Homo sapiens: one gene and its partners. The protein of the gene in region 3 interacts with the protein of the main gene of each other region in a pairwise test. Each region holds a gene or a part of one and is shown on either strand. Other genes may lie near its edges.

The links. Proteins that work in one complex are often made in the same cells at the same time.
Region 1: the proteins of BACH1 (region 3) and MAFB interact in binary tests that used the Homo sapiens proteins (3 or more experiments, as listed by UniProt).
Region 2: the proteins of BACH1 (region 3) and ATF7 interact in binary tests that used the Homo sapiens proteins (3 or more experiments, as listed by UniProt).

What each region holds. Positions count from the first base shown.
Region 1 is NC_000020.11:40,686,210-40,693,975, forward strand, and holds the start of MAFB (transcription factor MafB), read right to left. Parts: upstream 3,028-7,766; 5' UTR 2,642-3,027; coding exon 1,670-2,641; 3' UTR 1-1,669.
Region 2 is NC_000012.12:53,532,356-53,539,392, forward strand, and holds part of ATF7 (cyclic AMP-dependent transcription factor ATF-7), read right to left. Parts: intron 5,986-7,037; exon of another isoform or gene 5,851-5,985; intron 5,198-5,850; coding exon 5,060-5,197; intron 3,238-5,059; exon of another isoform or gene 3,011-3,237; intron 2,305-3,010; coding exon 2,147-2,304; intron 905-2,146; coding exon 805-904; intron 269-804; coding exon 155-268; intron 1-154. Other genes in the region: ATF7-NPFF readthrough protein, read right to left, coding at 155-268, 805-904, 2,147-2,304, 5,060-5,197. UniProt on the Homo sapiens protein: Stress-responsive chromatin regulator that plays a role in various biological processes including innate immunological memory, adipocyte differentiation or telomerase regulation.
Region 3 is NC_000021.9:29,343,907-29,346,670, reverse strand, and holds the end of BACH1 (transcription regulator protein BACH1), read right to left. Parts: 3' UTR 523-2,764; downstream 1-522. UniProt on the Homo sapiens protein: Transcriptional regulator that acts as a repressor or activator, depending on the context. Binds to NF-E2 DNA binding sites. Plays important roles in coordinating transcription activation and repression by MAFK.

The DNA of each region.
Region 1 (7,766 bases), on a different chromosome or scaffold from region 3:
TCAAATGGGAACTTAAAAATACACTTTTATTTTGGTATTTTTGTCAGTGCAACTTAAATCCTTTTACTGACCTGCAGAAAAAAAAAAGTAATAATAAAGAAAAACACCCATATCTTCCCTATAACTACTATACAACTGAAGAATTGAAGGGGGGGGACACCACCAAGAACTCTTCCTACTATCTCAAAAGCAGGGAAAGAAACGCAATGCATTGGTCTAAAGAACGCACTTGAAAGTTGCAAAATTACTTGCCAATGTTTGGGTTTCTGGTACATTCTGAGCATAGCAGTTGGTTCAGTGCAGTGTCTGCTTACCAGTGCACTGCCAGGGTCAGGGATGGCTAAGCCTCTCACCCTAGGAGCGCTGTGGCTCCTACAATTAGCGCAGGCCCAGAGGGTTCAGAAGGGACCTCAGGGTGATTCTGGTTACAATAAAAAGCAGAGGGGAGGATCTGTTTTCCTTTCCTTTCCTTTCTTATTAAGGGTATCAATTTGACCATAAGACAAGGCTGTAGTCCAGAACACTCCTCTGGGGTGCGGAGCTTGGCAGCTTCCCTGCCCTGCCCTGCCCTTGTACTGGGACCTCTCGGTTCTCTCTCTCAGCACCAACAAGGTTGAAAACTAAAGCGAGAGAGGAAAAAGAGGACCGAATGGGGATAAGGGAAGGAAAGAAAACATGCAACTTCCAAGTGTGCCCCAAGACAAAGTTGTTTTCTGATGCAAAATGCCCGGAACTTTTTCTTTTTTTTTTTCTTTTTAACTTACAAACAAAAATACCGTAATAATAAACCCAAACAAAGACCCTCAGCTTGCTGCCACGTTCTCTATGCGGTTTGGCGGGGCGGGTATTTACAAGCCTACAGCTGGGACTGAAACCCCGCACGCAGCCGCCGGAGTTTCCAAACTGCGATCCCTTCTCACCCAAAGAAACAAGGGGAGTATGATCCATGATCAACAACATGCTAAAGTTAAACAAGAAAATGGTACAAAATAGAAATTATTACCATACATGTCCAGCATGCAGGATTAATATTTTTAATGCAGATTTTTTGTATTTTTCTATATAATCGAGCAGGCAATAAAACTGATGAGATTTGGGCGCCGAGCGTCCTAACTGAGGCCTGTGTCTCAGGGCTGAGAGCCAGTGTTCTCCGAACTCTGACAGACAGGTCCGTCTGTCCTTCCTTCTTTCGCTCAGCCTCGCCTCTCGCCTGCCGGGACGCCAGAGTCCCTCTCCTTTCCTCGTTGCTCTCTTCCTGGCGCGGACTACTCTCCGGGCAGCAAAGCAGCTGTCCCGGCTTAACGCGCAAAGTTCAGAAAGCCAGGAGTCTCCAGATGGCCTTGGTGACTTCTCGGGACTATGCCTCGCCGCCCTTCAGCCTGGAGAGAAGTTACTCCGGGACCTCCCACCCTCTCGTCTCTCTCTCCGGCTCTGCTCGAGTCTAGGAGGCGGCGCTGGCGTGCGCTACTCTCGCCTTAGCCAAGGTCCCCTGCCCGCCCGCGCACCCGCCCGTCGCCCGCGGCCCGCGCGCCCTTCCTCCCTCTCGCTCAAGTCAAACAGGTCAAGGCTGGGGCCGCGGCAGGGACAGGGTCCGGGGTAGTCTGGGACTAGGGACGTGGGACAGGGAGTCCGGGCCGGGGCAAGGGCGGGGGCCAGGACCGGCCACGACTCACAGAAAGAACTCGGGAGAGGAGGGGCTGTCGCTGGTGGAGCCCGCCTCCCTGAAGCCGGAGTTGGCGAGTTTCTCGCACTTGACCTTGTAGGCGTCTCTCTCGCGGGCCAGCCGGGACACCTCCTGCTTAAGCTGCTCCACCTGCTGAATGAGCTGCGTCTTCTCATTCTCCAGGTGGTGCTTCTGCTGGACGCGTTTATACCTGCAAGACTGGGCGTAGCCCCGGTTCTTCAGGGTCCGCCGCTTCTGCTTCAGGCGGATCACCTCGTCCTTGGTGAAGCCCCGCAGGTGGCGGTTCAGCTCGCGCACGGACATGGACACGAGCTGGTCGTCGGAGAAGCGGTCCTCCACGCTGCCGTTGCCGCCCGCCGCCGTCGCCGAGGCCGTCGCGTGCGGCCCGGGCCCGGGGTGGCTAGTGGGCAGCTGTTGCGCCGGGCTAGCGGCGCTGGACGGCGGCGGCGACGCTTGGTGATGATGGTGATGGTGCGGGTGAGCGTGCGGGCCCAGCTCGTCGTGGGCCACGCCGGCGCCCGGGTACGCGTGGTGCGGGTGAGGGTGGTGGTGATGGTGGTGGTGGTGAGCGCCGCGAAAGCTGTCGAAGCTTTGCAGCGGCTGTGGCACTGGGTGCGAGCCGATGAGCGCTTCCACCGCGTCCTCGGGCGTCAGGTTGAGCGCCTCGGGGTTCATCTGCTGGTAGTTGCTCGCCATCCAGTACAGATCCTCGAGGTGTGTCTTCTGTTCGGTCGGGCTGAAGCTGGGCGACGAGGGCACGGAGCTACACGGAGTGCTGAGCGGTGTGGAGGACACCGAGCCGGCTGGCTGCAGGCGTGTGCAGGGCCTGCCCGGACGCTCCGCGCGCCCCAGTGGCTCCTTCTTCACGTCGAACTTGAGCAGGTCGAAGTCGTTGACATACTCCATGGCCAGCGGGCTGGTGGGCAGCTCTGGCCCCATGCTCAGCTCCGCGGCCATCGCTGAAGCGAGGCGCAGCCGCCGCTGCCGCCCGGGAAACTTTGCGGCCGGCCGGAGCGCGCCGAGCCAAGCGCGGGGGGGAAGAGCGGAGAAGAGCTGGGGAGGCGGGGAGCGAGGGCGCAGCGGGCCGGGGCCGCCGGCCAAGCCTTTGTCTGGGGACGCGGCGGCGCGCCGGAGAGTCCCGAGGCTGCCTGCACCGCCCCAGAGCTCTGGGCTGTGCCCGCGCAGGGACCGGGCCGGGTAGAGTCGGGCGGGGTGGAGAGGCAAGCGGAGCGCGCGGTGGGGCTGAGGGGAGGCGTGGGGCGAGTGCCCGTTGCTCGCTCTCTAGCTCTCTTGCTCTTACGCTCTCTCGCTCGCAGCCGCTCGCAGCTCGGCGGTGCAGCTGTGCTGGATCCGGCGGCGCCGCAGCCTTTTATCGCCTCCTGATGTCACTGGGGTGCGGGGGCCCGGGCGGCCCGGTGCGCGGGCCAATAGCTGCACGGCCTCCGCGGCCCAGCGGCGCAGGGCGGGGCGCGCCTGACAGCTCCCCCGCCCCCCGCGTCAGCTGACTGGCGGCCCGAGCGGCCCCGGAGCGGCGGAGGCCTGGCGGAGCGCTGGAGCGGAGTGGGACGGCCAGCCTGGGCCCACCCCCGTACCCTGCAGGTCCCGGCCCACGCACGCTCGCCTGGAGTGCGCGCCCCACCTCTAGGCCAAATCACCGCTTTCCCCTCCTCGCGCACTCTCCTCCCTCAGTTCCCTTTGCACCCCACCCCCATCCCGTGTCACCCCCAAGGAGGCTCAGAATGAGCGCCGGGACAACGCCTCCTGGGCCCTTTGTTCCCAAGCGGCCCCCGCCCAGTGGGCGACGCTCTGTGTGTCCTCGCGGCTTCTGGCCGTGTGTGTCGTGCGTTCCTGTTTCTGGAGATCTGCGCGTATTTGTATGTTGGGGAGGGCGGGCTCGAGGCTCCGAGAGTTGTGTTCAGACCCAACTCTTAACCTCAGGGGACCTTTCTCAGGCCAAGCGAGGGCCCCTCCTGGCGGGTGCAGTCGCAGAGCCCTGAGGTTCGACTCCACTGGCCCCGCCGCTCCCCGCGTTCACCCCACCGCACAATGTTCACAGTGAAGGCGACGGGAAAAGCAGCAGCCCAAAGGCTCTGAATTCCTCTTCCCCGCCACACGCACGGAATCCTGAGCCCCCGGAGCCTCGGGGCCGAGGCCGGCCCGGGACGGTGCTCCGAGTAGCTCTCCACTGCTGGGGAGCCGGCCCTGTTTTTGTTTGAACGTTTTGTAACGATTAAGCAGATCCCGGCGTCAGCCCGCCGCGGAGAGGCTCAAACAGGCATAAAGTGCGACCCCAAGTGGCCACTGTGCGCAAAGGCGCCGCGACCGCCCGGCCCACGGCCGGAAGGCTTGGACGGCGCCTCGTACCCAGCCAGGTCTCCCCTACCTGGCCCAACCCAAGCCAGCCCAGAACGCATACTATGTGTGCACCAGAGCCCAGGACAGGTTCCCCTCGAGCGATGTACAGGTCCTCGGGTCCCGTCTTCGTACTCAGCCGCGAGCCTCGAGCCGCGAGCTCCGCTCTGGTCGCCCCGTTGAAATTCCGTGCCCCAGCGTTCGGGGGTGCCCGTCGGCTGCTCCCTGGGCCGGAAGGTCCTGGGCGGAGGAAGGCCGGTAGCCAAAAGTGGAAGCGCCACAGTGAAGCGGCCCAGGGCCACCGGGTGAGAAACCTCCCCGGAGGGCAGACGGGGAGACCGAAGCACACCGCACTAGGCATCCAGACTGGGCTTGGGAGCCGCGCACCCTCCCTACCCAGATCCAGGATGGCTAGAATTAACGGGTTCTTTCTGAGACCTCGGCTCAGGCGCCGAAACCGGATAGATCGCGAATTCGCTGGACCCGGAGACCCGACCCGCCTCCCGCGTCACCTTCTTCTTTCTAGCTTTGGGCGCGCGCAGCGAAAGGCAGGAGAGGCGCGCACTGGGTGAGTGAGTCCCGGCCGCTGTCTGCGCTGGACCAGCCCGACTGACCTCGCGCGTAGGGGTCGCGTGAGCCACACCGGTGCAGACGCGCCTAGATTATTTTTAAATGTTAGAAGGTAAAATATTTGCCTCCAATTAATCTGAAAACTCTCTATTCTCTTGCGCCCTCGGAGAGGCTGGGGTACGGCGTGGTATTGGGCCGCCTATTTTTAATAAAATGAGTGTATTTTAACTAAAACTTAACTCAATCTTGTGGGGTGGCAAATTAAATGCTGGAAGAGCGCGTCTACAACCCTCTTCGAGAAGCGTGCTCTCCGCAGAAATGAGTCGGCCGCCTGGAGAGAGAGCCTGGGCGGTGCCGCTGCGCAGCCCCTGCCAGTAGCTGGGGGTTGGGGACTCGCACCTTGTAAATGTCCTCGTCTTGTTTGAACGCAGTGAGAGCACACTCGTTTCCAGATCACTCGGGACCGGGTGTCTCGGATCTGTGCAGACTATGTATGGCTCCGGCCTCAGGCGGCCAGGGCGGGACAAGCACGCCTGACTCTCTTGGTCCCGACTGGACTAGAGCTGGTAGCACCCTCCCTCAGGGTCCTAAGAGACCTGTGGCTCCCAGAGTGTTTCTGCCACTGTGGACTTCTGCGCGGGCACCAAGATGGACAGGCCAAGCTGTGACCCACTCCACCCCCGCCCATACGTCCCCTCGGCTCTGCCTGACACTGGCCGTCGAAGACTTCCGTGGCCCATTAAGGCCCTGGGGATTCCTGAGGCCCCAGGTCTGCGGTTCCGAACCTCCTCTTCTCCTGCGGGCGGCCTGCCTCCGACTCAGGGTCTCTTGGACTCGGGCTTTGGGCAACCGCGCTCTTCTTTGTCCCTGTGCCTCTGTCTCTGTTGTGGTCACTCCCTTCGCCTGGGCTTTGACTGTGGTATCTCTGTCCATCCCCAGGCTCACTTCCCCACCCAAATCCGTTTCTCTGCCCCTCTCCCAGCTTAGCCACTCCCTCCTCTGCACACCCCACAACCTACCCCACCAAAAAAAAATGTTGGAAACAGCCCTACCCCTGCCAGGCTGTGGGTGAATGACGGAGACATGCAGGTGGCCGAGGAGTTAAGGCCGCTGCTGCGCAGCCGGCCCCACTTCGTGGCCTGGCCTCCCCCACCCCGGTTACTGCTGCGCTGACTTGGAGCCCCAGGCCCTATAGCCTCCAACTTCCGACTGCTGTCGCGGGATGCCGCTTCTCATCTCTGGGGTCTCTGGATCAGCATGCCAGGCTCGGCTCCCCGTCATGGATACACAGCAGTGCCCGCAGTCTTCACCCTATCCCTAAAACGTAGGCAGGGTTGAGGTGAGGAGGGTGAGGGATTGCTGCTGTATACCTATTGACTGGGAGTCCGACACGCTCAAAGAAAAAAAGTAAAAGAAGGAACGGTGGAAGAAGTGAAGGGTCGAGGAGAAGTAAAGGGAGGCCAGGAGACACGCGAGCAGTGCACGGAGTCCCAAGGCACACTGAAGGAAATGCACGGAGTCCCAAGGCACACTGAAGGAAAGTCGGGGATTTTGCGGCAGCCACAGCCCCTCTAGTGAACAGCTTGTTGCCAAAACTCCCATTTAAGGTGTTTACCCAAGAGTGACCTCCTCTCTACCCACGCCAGGTTGGGCCAGAGGCTATGCCTCTGGGACGCACCGCCTCGGGATTCTTTAGCTACAAATGGTGATGGAGGAAGCTCTGCAGGGTCCGAGCCGCTGCAGAGCCTTGGAGCATTCGGGGTAGGAGTAAGAGAAGAGGTTATTCCCTAAGGGAGCGTGGAGCCCACAGCCAGCCGCCAGGTGTGAGGTTTGCCGCGCTGCCCTCGTTGGCCCCCACTCAGCCGAGGGAATAACTCCAGAGAGGCCCGGCGGCGTGTCCTCCCGTACGCCTGGAAACCAGAGCGGCATTCCTGGCATCCTCATTCAGCCCGAAGGTGCGCCGTTCACCTTCGGCGTTATTTCCCTGAGGGTTGCAGGTGGTTGGTGAGCGAGGAGGCGTCTCTGTGCACGCATGGGTGCTGTTGGAGGCGTGCGGGAGGGGTGTGTTCGTGCGTGTGCTGTTTGCGCGCGCGTGTGTGTTGGTGGAGAGGCGCAGCAGCACGCGGGATGCGGGAGCGGGAAACTTCCAGCTTCAAAGCTCGGTGGGCTCCGGATCGTACTATGCGGAGTCGCTAAGCAGAGGCCAGTGGTCTCAAGGGCCTCAGAGGCAAGTTCTGCCAGGGAGGGTCCTGAATCAGGGGACCCCCACCTCCCGCCTGCCGCAGGAGCTTGACTTCTGCCTTTGCATCACCCAGATGTAGTGTCACCTGTCTTTTCCAAGGAGCCCTCAGGTCTCTGCCACCTTTTGTGAGGCTCAGTGGAAAAGTATTATGTTGCTCCCATTCCGTGGGATCCTCCCAAGGTCTATGGAACCCAAAAAGAGACAGGAGGGTTTTCTGGGGGATTTTTGTTTCTGTTTTTTGCCCTTACTCTTCCTTTTCCTCTTCCCAAAGGCAGCTATCACTTCCACTTTCCCTTGCCCCATACAACCGCTGTCAGATTCCAACCCAGTGCTTCTAAAAAGGTATTCTTGGGTTTCTGGGTCCTGGTGGTCTTTAGGCAACCAAAAGATTCAGAGGGTCCCAGTAGGGAGCCAGAGTTACACTGACTGTGAAGATCCTGGCTGTCTCTCCTGGGGACCAGGGACAACACCCCAATACATGCAGAAATGTGCACGCGAGCACACACACACACTTAGGGGTAGGAAATTATTATTAAAACTATTTCACTGTTTTTTTTTACTGTGTTCTAATGTGACCAATAAATAATTTTAAATTACACATGTGCCTCACATTCTATTTCTGATGGACAAGCCTGCATTAGATAACCACTGGGCAGTATTGCTTCCAACACAGATGGGATATTTGATAATAGTCACTCTCATTTGTACAGGGAGTTGCAAAGCCTTTTGTCATTCACCTTTTTGTTTTGTTGTTTTTGTTGTTGTTGTTGGTTTGTTTTATTTTATTTTTTGAGATGGAGTCTCACTCTGTTGCCCAGGCTGGAGCCTGGAGTGCAGTGGCGTAATCTCGGCTCACTGCAACCTCCACCTCCTGGGTTCAATCGATTCTCCTGCCTCAGCCTCCCAAGTAGCTGAGAT
Region 2 (7,037 bases), on a different chromosome or scaffold from region 3:
TTGGAGTCTTTTCTTTTCCAGACCCCACAGCAGGGAGTCCTTAGCTTTGCAAGCCCCAGAAGGTTCCTTTGCTTGGCTCACTTGAAAGACCTAGGCTGGTATCACCCACTTCTTTCAGAAAGGCCAACATTGCCCCAGACTGGGATGTACTCACCATCTTGGCTTCTGATGGTATAGGGTGGCCAGAGGGAGAAATGGAGCCACTACTGTTAACTGGTGGGCCAGGGATACCAGGAATGTTGGGCACCATGGACACAGGTCTGGCCAGCTGGATCGAGAGAAGGAAAAAAAAAAAAAGAGAAGGGAACATAATACCATCGGTGGGGCAACAGTTTCCCTAAAATGAAGCGCTTTTGAGATTGGCACATCAGGGCCTGTTGTGTGCAATGTGCCCATAGGGCGTGCAGGGACAGCCTGGGAAATACCTTTCTCCATGGAGCACCAGAGTAGGGAATTTAATCCTTCAGTGTTGGGGCAATTTCTGTGGGAAGGGTTGGGGCTGTTATCTTGAGGAAATTGTTGGGCAATTTGGGAGGTGCTACGTGCCAAGTGAAAGCAACTAATCAGTGGGCTGGCAAGATCAATTCCTAGACCAGGAGCCAATTGTCCAGATGAGTCTTTATCTAGTGTTCCATAGTGCTGGATTGGCAGAGGTTAGTGAAGAGTTTAGGCAGGCTGCCATGCTCAGCTAATATAGATCAGAGCCCACATTTCCCTGGGGCTCATGTGTATTTTATGACCATTCAGGTGGAAGGGAAGGATTACCATGTTGGTAGGGTTGGCTGCCCCAACTACAGAGCTCACCGATATAACAGACGGCATCTGTACTGGAGGCCCTGGCAACACAGGCATGGTCTGTCCATTAGCAAGATGCATGACAAGAGGGAGGGAGCCAGTGGGAGACCTAGAGGAGACATGAAGTGAAATGCTCATAACACAGACCTTTTGTCCATGGATCTTCCTCTTATAATTACAGAAGATTTTCCAGTCTTCTCTAGTTAGGGAAGGTATAGGGCAGCATGGTAAAAATCTTGACACCCTCATGAAGGTGAGAAGGCAGGGAATCCTATTCAACTTACCTTATAGATGGAGAAAAATGGCAAAATCTTTATACTTTGCAAATTAAGCAAACTCAAATAGTAGGAAGCTAATCCTATTAAAGGGTTTAGAACAATTAAACATTCCTACCACTGGCTTGCCTTGGGAAAGGGGAAGTTGGATCAAAGTCGTCATTTTGCAAAGCTGAGTTAGGTCACATGATGGCCAAATCTGAATGTTTCTCTTGTTTCTTTCCATGGCTTGCTCTACCCTGCCTCAAAAAGAAGTTGTCCCTTTTTATTTTTCCTAGTGGGTCCAGAGAACAATAAGCTCTAAGAATCTGAATCCTGACAACAGCCTCTTAACCCATGGGTACCGTGCCAGGAGTGAAGACAAACAGACAAATAAAATTAGAGGTGGCAAAGACCAAGAACCCTAACTGGGACTGAGGAGACTTAATGGGTTTCAGTGTTTCATTCAGTAGTACCCCAATAGACTTCTACAGGGTGTGGTTTCCACACTGTAATGAACTTCTAATGTTTTAAGAGCTCTTTTTAGATTAAAGAAGTATTAAACCCTTAAATTAAGAAAGTATTACCCCCGGCTGGGCACGGTGGCTCACGCCTGTAATCCCGGCACTTTGGGAGGCAGAGGCAGGCGGATCACGAGGTCAGGAGATCGAGATCGTCCTGGCTAACACGGTGAAACCCCGTCTCTACTAAAAATACAAAAAATTAGCTGGGCGTGGTTGCAGGCGCCTGTGTTCCCAGCTACTCGGGAGGCTGAGGCAGGAGAATGGCCTGAACCCGGGAGACGGAGCTTGCAGTGAGCCGAGATTGCACCACTGCACTCCAGCCTGGGCGACAGAGCGAGCCTCTATCTCAAAAAAACCCAAAAAAAACAAAAAGTATTACCTCCAAATAAATATTTGCTTGTCTATTAAAAAGGTAAAGAAGATTCTGTTTATGGGGGAAAAATTTATTTTGAGAGATAATCTCAGTGACTTATTTTCCTTGGGTATTGGAAAACAGTCCCAGTTTTATCAAATAGTTTCATGTAATGGAAAGAAATGCAGCCTTCACTACTTCTCCCTGCTCTCTGTACTTACCCCATTTGCCTGTTGGATGGTGGAGCCTGTGTGATGACAGAGGTTGGGGAGGGAAGGGTTGGATGAAGTGGATCATAGCCCAAGTGGAGAGGCAGGGAGCCAGGACGTACAATGGTGGGTGTGGGGGTAGAGATCAGAACAGGCTTTGGGGTAACCTCCTGGAGAAAAGAAACCAACAGATCACAAAATGTTTTAAGGTGTGCTTATAGGGAAATATATAGATGGTAAAATCTAGTACAAATTTATTGGAAAGAGCATTAGAGCCACTCATTAAATCATGACCTGATTCCATCAGGATCAGGGACCCATAACTCACTCATCCATTCAGGAGGAATGGTGTATTAAGATCTCTTGGTCATCTCCCCTTTCAGAGACAATGGCTACATAAATAAGATGACAGTTGGAATATCACTTGAAATCTCTGAAGCAGCACTGTAGTACCATATAAATTCTAGAGACTGTTATAATTTTTCACAATCTAGATACTCTCATTCTAAACTTGATACCAAGTGTCCTCTGAACTTCAGTGGGAAAAGGCAGGTATACTGGTAATGATGGTAATGAGGCAACCCAACATCTCCAACACACCTCTTAAAAAAGGGCTATGGAAGTTTGGATAATGATCATACTGTAATAAAACAAACTGCTCTCATTGTTAACTTCTTAAGATCTTAGACTGCCAGTGGTCAAATGGCCTTGACAGCATCCCCAGACAGTCTGTAGGACTTTGTTGCTGATGAAAAGGGAGGAGAGAGGCGGAGGAGGTTGCAGTGAGCTGAGATCGCACCACTGCACTCCAGCCTGGCGACAGAGCGAGACTCTGCCTCAAAAAAAAAAAAAAAAAGAAAAGGGAGGAGATGGGATGGTTGTAATGTTTATGAGAAGACAGATTTGAGAAGTTATCAAGTCAAATTTGGAGGGAAGTAACATGAGATATAGATGCTCTATCCATAGTGGATGTTAAAATTAACAACCACTGGCAGAGCAGTAGATTGAAAGAAGGAGGAAGCATGAGGGGGCTTCTGAGGTTCTAAGAAAATGTTTTTGATCTAGGTGCTGGTTATACAGACTACTGACTTCGTGAAAATTCAGTAAGTGATATAATTACAATTTATATACTTTTCTGTACATGTACTATATTTCAATAAATGTATTAAAAATAGTACTTCATGAAAGTACTTCCTTTAAAAAGAATAATCATCAGACTTCTAGTAGATACTTCCTTTAAATCACTTCTCTCTAGGATGACATTTTTTCGAAACTGTTAGATGTCCAATTTATGAATTATGTGAATTTTTCTTTCTCACTTATTAATTGAAGTATAACATACAGTGATGTGCATTAAAGTCATAACAACAAAATGACTTTTAGGCTGGGTGCGGTGCTCACGTCTGTAATCGCAGCACTTTGGGAGGCTGAAGCAAGAGAATTGCTTGAGCCTGGGAGGCAGACGTTGCAGTGAGCTGAGATTGCACCACTGCACTCCAGCCTGGGCATCAGAGCAAGACTTTCTCTCAAAAGAAAAAAAAAAAAAGATGACTTGTTACAGATGTAAAATCAGGATACAGACCATTTCCAGCACCCCAGAAAGTTCTATGTCCCTTTCCAATCCACACCATTCCTTCACAGGAGGTAAATGCTATCCTGAGTTCTATCATTGTCAAACAGTTTTGCCTCTTCTTGAATTTTATAAGTATGTACTTTTGTGTATGACTTTTTTGTTGTTGTTGGATATGTTTGTGGGATTCACTCACATTGCTGTGTAATTATTAGTTCACTTTTTTTTTTTTTTTGAGACGGAGTTTTGCTCTGTCGCTCAGGCTGGAGTGCAATGGTGCAATCTTGGCTCACTGAAACCCTGGCCTCCTGGGTTCAAGCAATTCTCCTATCTCAGCCTCCCGAGTAGCTGGGATTATAGGCACACACCACCACATCCAGCTAATTTTTGTATTTTTGGTAGAGATGGGGTTTCACTATGTTGGCCAGGCTGGTCTTGAACTCCTGGCCTCAAGTGATTCCACCACCTCGGCCTCCCAAAGTGCTGGGATTACAGGCATGAGCCACCGTGCCTGACTGATTTTTGGCTATTAAGAATACAATTGCTGGCCGGGCGCGGTGGCTCAATCCTGTAACCCTAGCACTTTGGGAGGCCGAGGCGGGCAGATCGCCTGAGGTCAGGAGATCGAGACCAGCCTGACAAATGTGGTGAAACCCCATCTCTACTAAAAGTACAAAAATTAGCCGGGCGTGGTGGCACGCACCTGTAGTCCCAGCTACTTGGGAGGCTGAGGCAGGAGAATCGCTCAAACCTGGGAGGCAGAGGTTGCAGTGAGCCAAGATCACGCCATTGCACTCCAGCCTGGGTGACAGAGTGAGACTGTCTCAACAACAACAACAACAACAAAAGAATACAATTGCTATGAACATTCTAACATACTTCTTTTGGTAGACATATGCACTAATTTCTCTTCCATATAGACTTATAAGTGAAATTGCTGGGAAGGAGAATAGGTATAATTTATATAAATCTTCTAAATATTCCTTTAAATACAATCGGTCCTCCTATAATACATACTTTTTTTTTTCTTGAGACAGTCTCACTCTGTTGCCCAGGCTGGGGTGCAGTGGAGCAATCACAGCTCACTGCAGCCTCGACCTCTAGGGCTTAAGTGATCCTCCACCTCATACTCTCAAGTAGCTGGAACTACAGGCATGCTCCACCACGCCCAGGTAATTTTTGTATTTTAAGTGGAGATGGGGTTTCTCCATGTTGCCCAGGCTGGTCTTGAATTTCTGGGCTCAAGTGATTCTCCCATCTTGGCCTCCTGAGTAGTTAGGACATACTATTTATATAATTAATGAATCAAAACTTTATCAATTAACATTTGAGATGATCCTTGGTAGAGAATTTACCTTCTCCTTCAGTGGTGGGGAACAGGGACTAGAGGCAGGGCTATCAGGTGGGGATGAGTCTACCTCCACTGGCTCTTCTTCTTTGATTTTGATGTCTGGTGTGGAAGGCAGAGACATGTCAAGGGGCCCAGCAGCAGCCTGTTGTGAAAGAAAAATGAACAGAGTTTAACCCTATGATTCCTTTCAGGTTGAATCTATATTTTCCCATTTCCAAGATAAGGGAATATGCTTCTAAGAAGTTCTGCTCTTATACAATGCACTGAACTGCATGTCAAATAAATGTGGGCCCCTTATGTTTGATTTGTTTTGTATTTTGAGGCGTAGTTTCAATCTTGTTGCCCAGGCTAGAGTGCAATGGTGTGATCTCGTCTCACTGCAACTTCCACCTCCCAAGTTCAAGAGATTCTCCCGCCTCAGCCTCCCAAGTAGCTGGGATTATAGGCATGTGCCACCACGCCCAGCTAATTTTTTATTTTTAATAGAGATGGGGTTTCTCCATGTTGGTCAGGCTGATCTCGAACTCCCGACCTCAGGTGATTCACCTGCCTCAGCCTCCCAAAGTGTTGGGATTACAGGAATGAGCCACTGCATCCGGCCAAGAAATATGGGCCCCTTATGTTTTATGTACAATTCTGGCCAAATCATTTTGTCGGTAATTCTCAGGGCTTCTGTTTCCCCAACTATAAGATGAAGATAATACCTGCTTCACCAATGGTAAACAAATATTTATAAAGACCTGAAAAAAAAGATGCCATTTAAATCCATGCAAATATTATGATAATATTTTTCAGGAAATCAAAATAATTCCTGAATCTGCTGGCCACTGGAGAGCTGTGAACACTTTCTCTGCCAACAAGGATTACCCAATTACCAAAAGCAAACAAAGACAAACTGGCTATTCAAGTACTGCAAACCAGATAGGAAAGGTATTTTCTGGGGAACTCACCATGCTTGATGGTGATCTCACCCCAAAATATGGTGCTGGATGTATCAGGTAGACAAGGGGTTTGGGGTAACAGAAAAGAAAGGCTGATCATCTGATTGGTGAAATAAATGACAACTTGGTCTTAGGAGCAAGACTGGAGAAAACCAGAAAGGAAAGAGAGCACTTTCCTGGCAGTGATGCAATCACCTCACAGAACTGTGGAGCTGTAAACGGCCTTGCAGGGAACAATAAACCATCTGAGATAATGGCCTTGACACTGAACCAGGATAGGAGGGTTGGCATTGCAGTTCAGTTTCATAACAAAGTGGATCCTTTGTTCTATCTATCCTGTATCCCAGGCTTCTTGGTGAAGCAACTGCTTGTTTCAAGATCTTCCCTTGCTACCCTAACCCTTAGAAACCTTCTTGATAGCTAGCTGAGTAAATTAAAGATAATGTGATATCTACTACATTAGAGAAGGTAGTAGTGGTTCATTTTCCCCAATCTGAGGAGGGTGAGCAACAGCAAAAGTAGCTTCATTTCTGCCTCATTTTTTCTACATAGCTAAGATGTCAGGTCCAATTTAGCTAATTCTGAGATCTCTTAAGTCAGAGACTAGTGGGAAGGAGAAGCCTCTAAGTAAATACAACCATAGATTTGAAATCCTCTAGGGCATCTCCTAGCAAAGCTGCGGTTCAGCAAAGTTCCACACTCATTAAACACTTCTGGAGACTCTTCCACTGAGCCTGTACTTCTCATTAAGGGGAAGTAAAGACCACTCCTGTACAGGCAGGAGGATACACCAAGGAATGCCCAGTGAGGAAAGGGCTGACTATAAACTAGTCTCCCAGAAGTGTCAACTGAGCTAAAATGGCAATGAAAAAGACTTGAAGCTTTTTATGGGAAGCTAATTTTCTTGAATTTGCCTATAATAAATTGGGTATAAAATCCCTCATAGGCCAAGTGTGGTGGCTCATGCCTGTAATCTCAACACTTTGGGAGGCCAAGGTGGGAGGATCACCTGAGGCCCGAAATTCTAGACCAGCCTGTGCA
Region 3 (2,764 bases):
TGTTGTGAGGGCTGTCCTGGCCTCTGCCCCTAGAAGCCATATCCTATACCCTGCCCCCGAGATTTGTGTCTCTGGGAACTGCCAAGTGTCCCCTAGGCAAGCAAAATCATCCCCAGCTGAGAATCACTATGATTAGACCAGAAGACTTTGCCCTGGATGGCCAATACCGCTGAGCAGCTGCCCAAAGCTTGGTCAGAAGGGCCTGGTTGGAAATTGAATAGGATACAAAGAGCTGACTCGGCAGATAAGTTTTTAAAACTTAATGACTGATAGAGATAATACCCCTTAAGAGTCCCTATACTTCTCTATCCAAACTAACATTAAGTAAAATCAGAAGCAAAGCTAAAATCTGTGCTTCCTAAAACACCTGAATGCTGGAATTTTTTTTTTTTTGAGGCATGATTATCATCAACTAAGGAAAGATTCTCTCCTACAAATTCAGATATACTAATTACCGATCAAAAGACTAAACTGAGTAAATCCACATGAAGTGAGAAAATGAAAATGGAATGTACAATTCTATTCAATTAGAAGCAATTTTAGAGAATTTTATTTAACTGTCAACTTATCACCAACATCTAACATTTTTTAGTTCAGGTACATTTGGGTAAGAACATTAGGGAGAAATGTAAATTAAATACTATGAAACTATGCTTTTAATGAAACATGGTCTCAGTAAAATATGGACACAAAAGTTTAGTGGTTTTATTGCATTGTTAGAAAATTATATTATGAAAGATATAAAAAAATCAATGTTTTTCTGCTTCTTTTATAATCAGTATGCCATCTTCTACCATTATGGCTTTAATTTTCATTCTACCCAACAAGTTTCAAAGAATAGTTTATTACATGCCTTAATAAAACATTTAAAATATTTACAGATTCAAAATAGATGTTTTATAACTGAAAAAAGTTCACCTGAGAATTCACCGTAACATTGCCATTTTTTTCCCAAGTTGTTAATGTGACTGAGTGTCCACATGCAACCTGTATCGTCTACTGCATCTAACATACTTATTTCCTTATTTAAAATTAGTTAAGCAGTAAGCTATAGCAAACTGTTAAAAAAAATTACAGATGGAGAACCAAGACTGTATCCACATTTGTTTTGAATATGACAATTTAACGAATTATTTGCTATAGTTCCAGAATTTGAATAAGAAAAAAAATAAGGTAATGTTATTTTACTGAATTCAACATAACAGCTTTTAAAAAATCATCAAACATTGAGAAGGCCAGTTCATAAAATAGTGAACAATGATCATGTGAATATGCAATATACAAACTGAAAACATTTCAAAATTCTGCATGAAGGAAAAGGCATACACTGTATACTCATAATCCTGTCATTTGTCTTCGGCAGCCTCAAAAAAAATATTGCCTTGAAACATTTTCTTAGAAAAAACTTCTTTAGAAGTTAATGTTAAAATAGGCATAAATGTGTAATGCTATGCAATATACAGAAAACTTTCCCACTTATGGCCAAAAGACAAACGTAAAATCTTTTTTATCTGTCCATCTGCATTACAACTTGAAAATCATGTAGATATGAGGTAGTGTAGTTACTTGTATTACATGCTGGCTATTTAAAGTAATGCTAAATTTTAAGAAATTACACTTGGCCAATAATTCTGTGTCATTAATAGAAACCCTTAATGCTAAACTGTTTATAGGTAGAGAGAAATTTAAACCAAGTGCTTTACAAATTATATTTAAGCTCTGGAGACAACTACATTTTATCATAAAATAGTAGGTAATCTTTCAAAGCAAGTACAGTAGCAATTAAAGCAAAAGATTATTTGACATTTGCACATACACAAACTGATACAACCAATAGTTGGGTGTACACTGAGGTAGGAAATCAAGGGTTCCATTGGCTTAAGATTTTACATTTTGTAAACCAGAAGTTCTTATATTATTTTATATCGTGAAGCTGAAATTTAAAATTACAAGTATCAAAGAAATACCTATATGGAGAGATATATATGTATACATACACATACACACACACACACACACACACACACACACACACAAATTCTTTTGCAGTATGGGATGCACTATCAGAATTATTCTCCCTGACAAATTCTTGAGTGTACTTATAAAAGCTACTAGAAAATAAACAAGTCCAACTAATTTTCTCTTACAAATAAGTCAGTGACAGAGAGAACATACAAACCACTGAAAATATACTAGCAATATCCTCCCCCTACACCCTGATCAAAAAGGGTAACATTTGACAAATTACTCCAAGACATGAAGACTGGTCCCCATATACTCTCAAGGGCAAGGCCAACTTGCTTCAGACTTGTTCATACACAGTGGGTGGTGGCTGCCCACATTAGCTAGACAAGCCCTGCACTAGGCTCAGGATGCAGTCTATAGAAGTGTCTCTTTCAGCCCTCTGATTTTGGTGAAATCAACACTATAAACTACTCCTCTGTACCATTAAAACTGGGTTCTGCCAATGTTTCTGTGAATGTGAATATATGCATTTTTTTTAATTGCTGAGAAGATCCATAGCTTTCATTTGACTCTCAAACACATCTAACCCCAGCATGGCTAAAAGCCACCGCAAAATGTTATGCGATAGGTGCTCAGTTATCTATTTTGTAACAGGACTGAACAAACACTAAGACTGATCTTTAAATGTCCAAGTTAAAATGATTTGTGTGTCTTTATACCACACCAAATTTGGAGAAGAGAGCAAGGATTCAACCTGCTTTTCAAATGCAAACCCACAATAGAAAAAGATTGAGTTTCA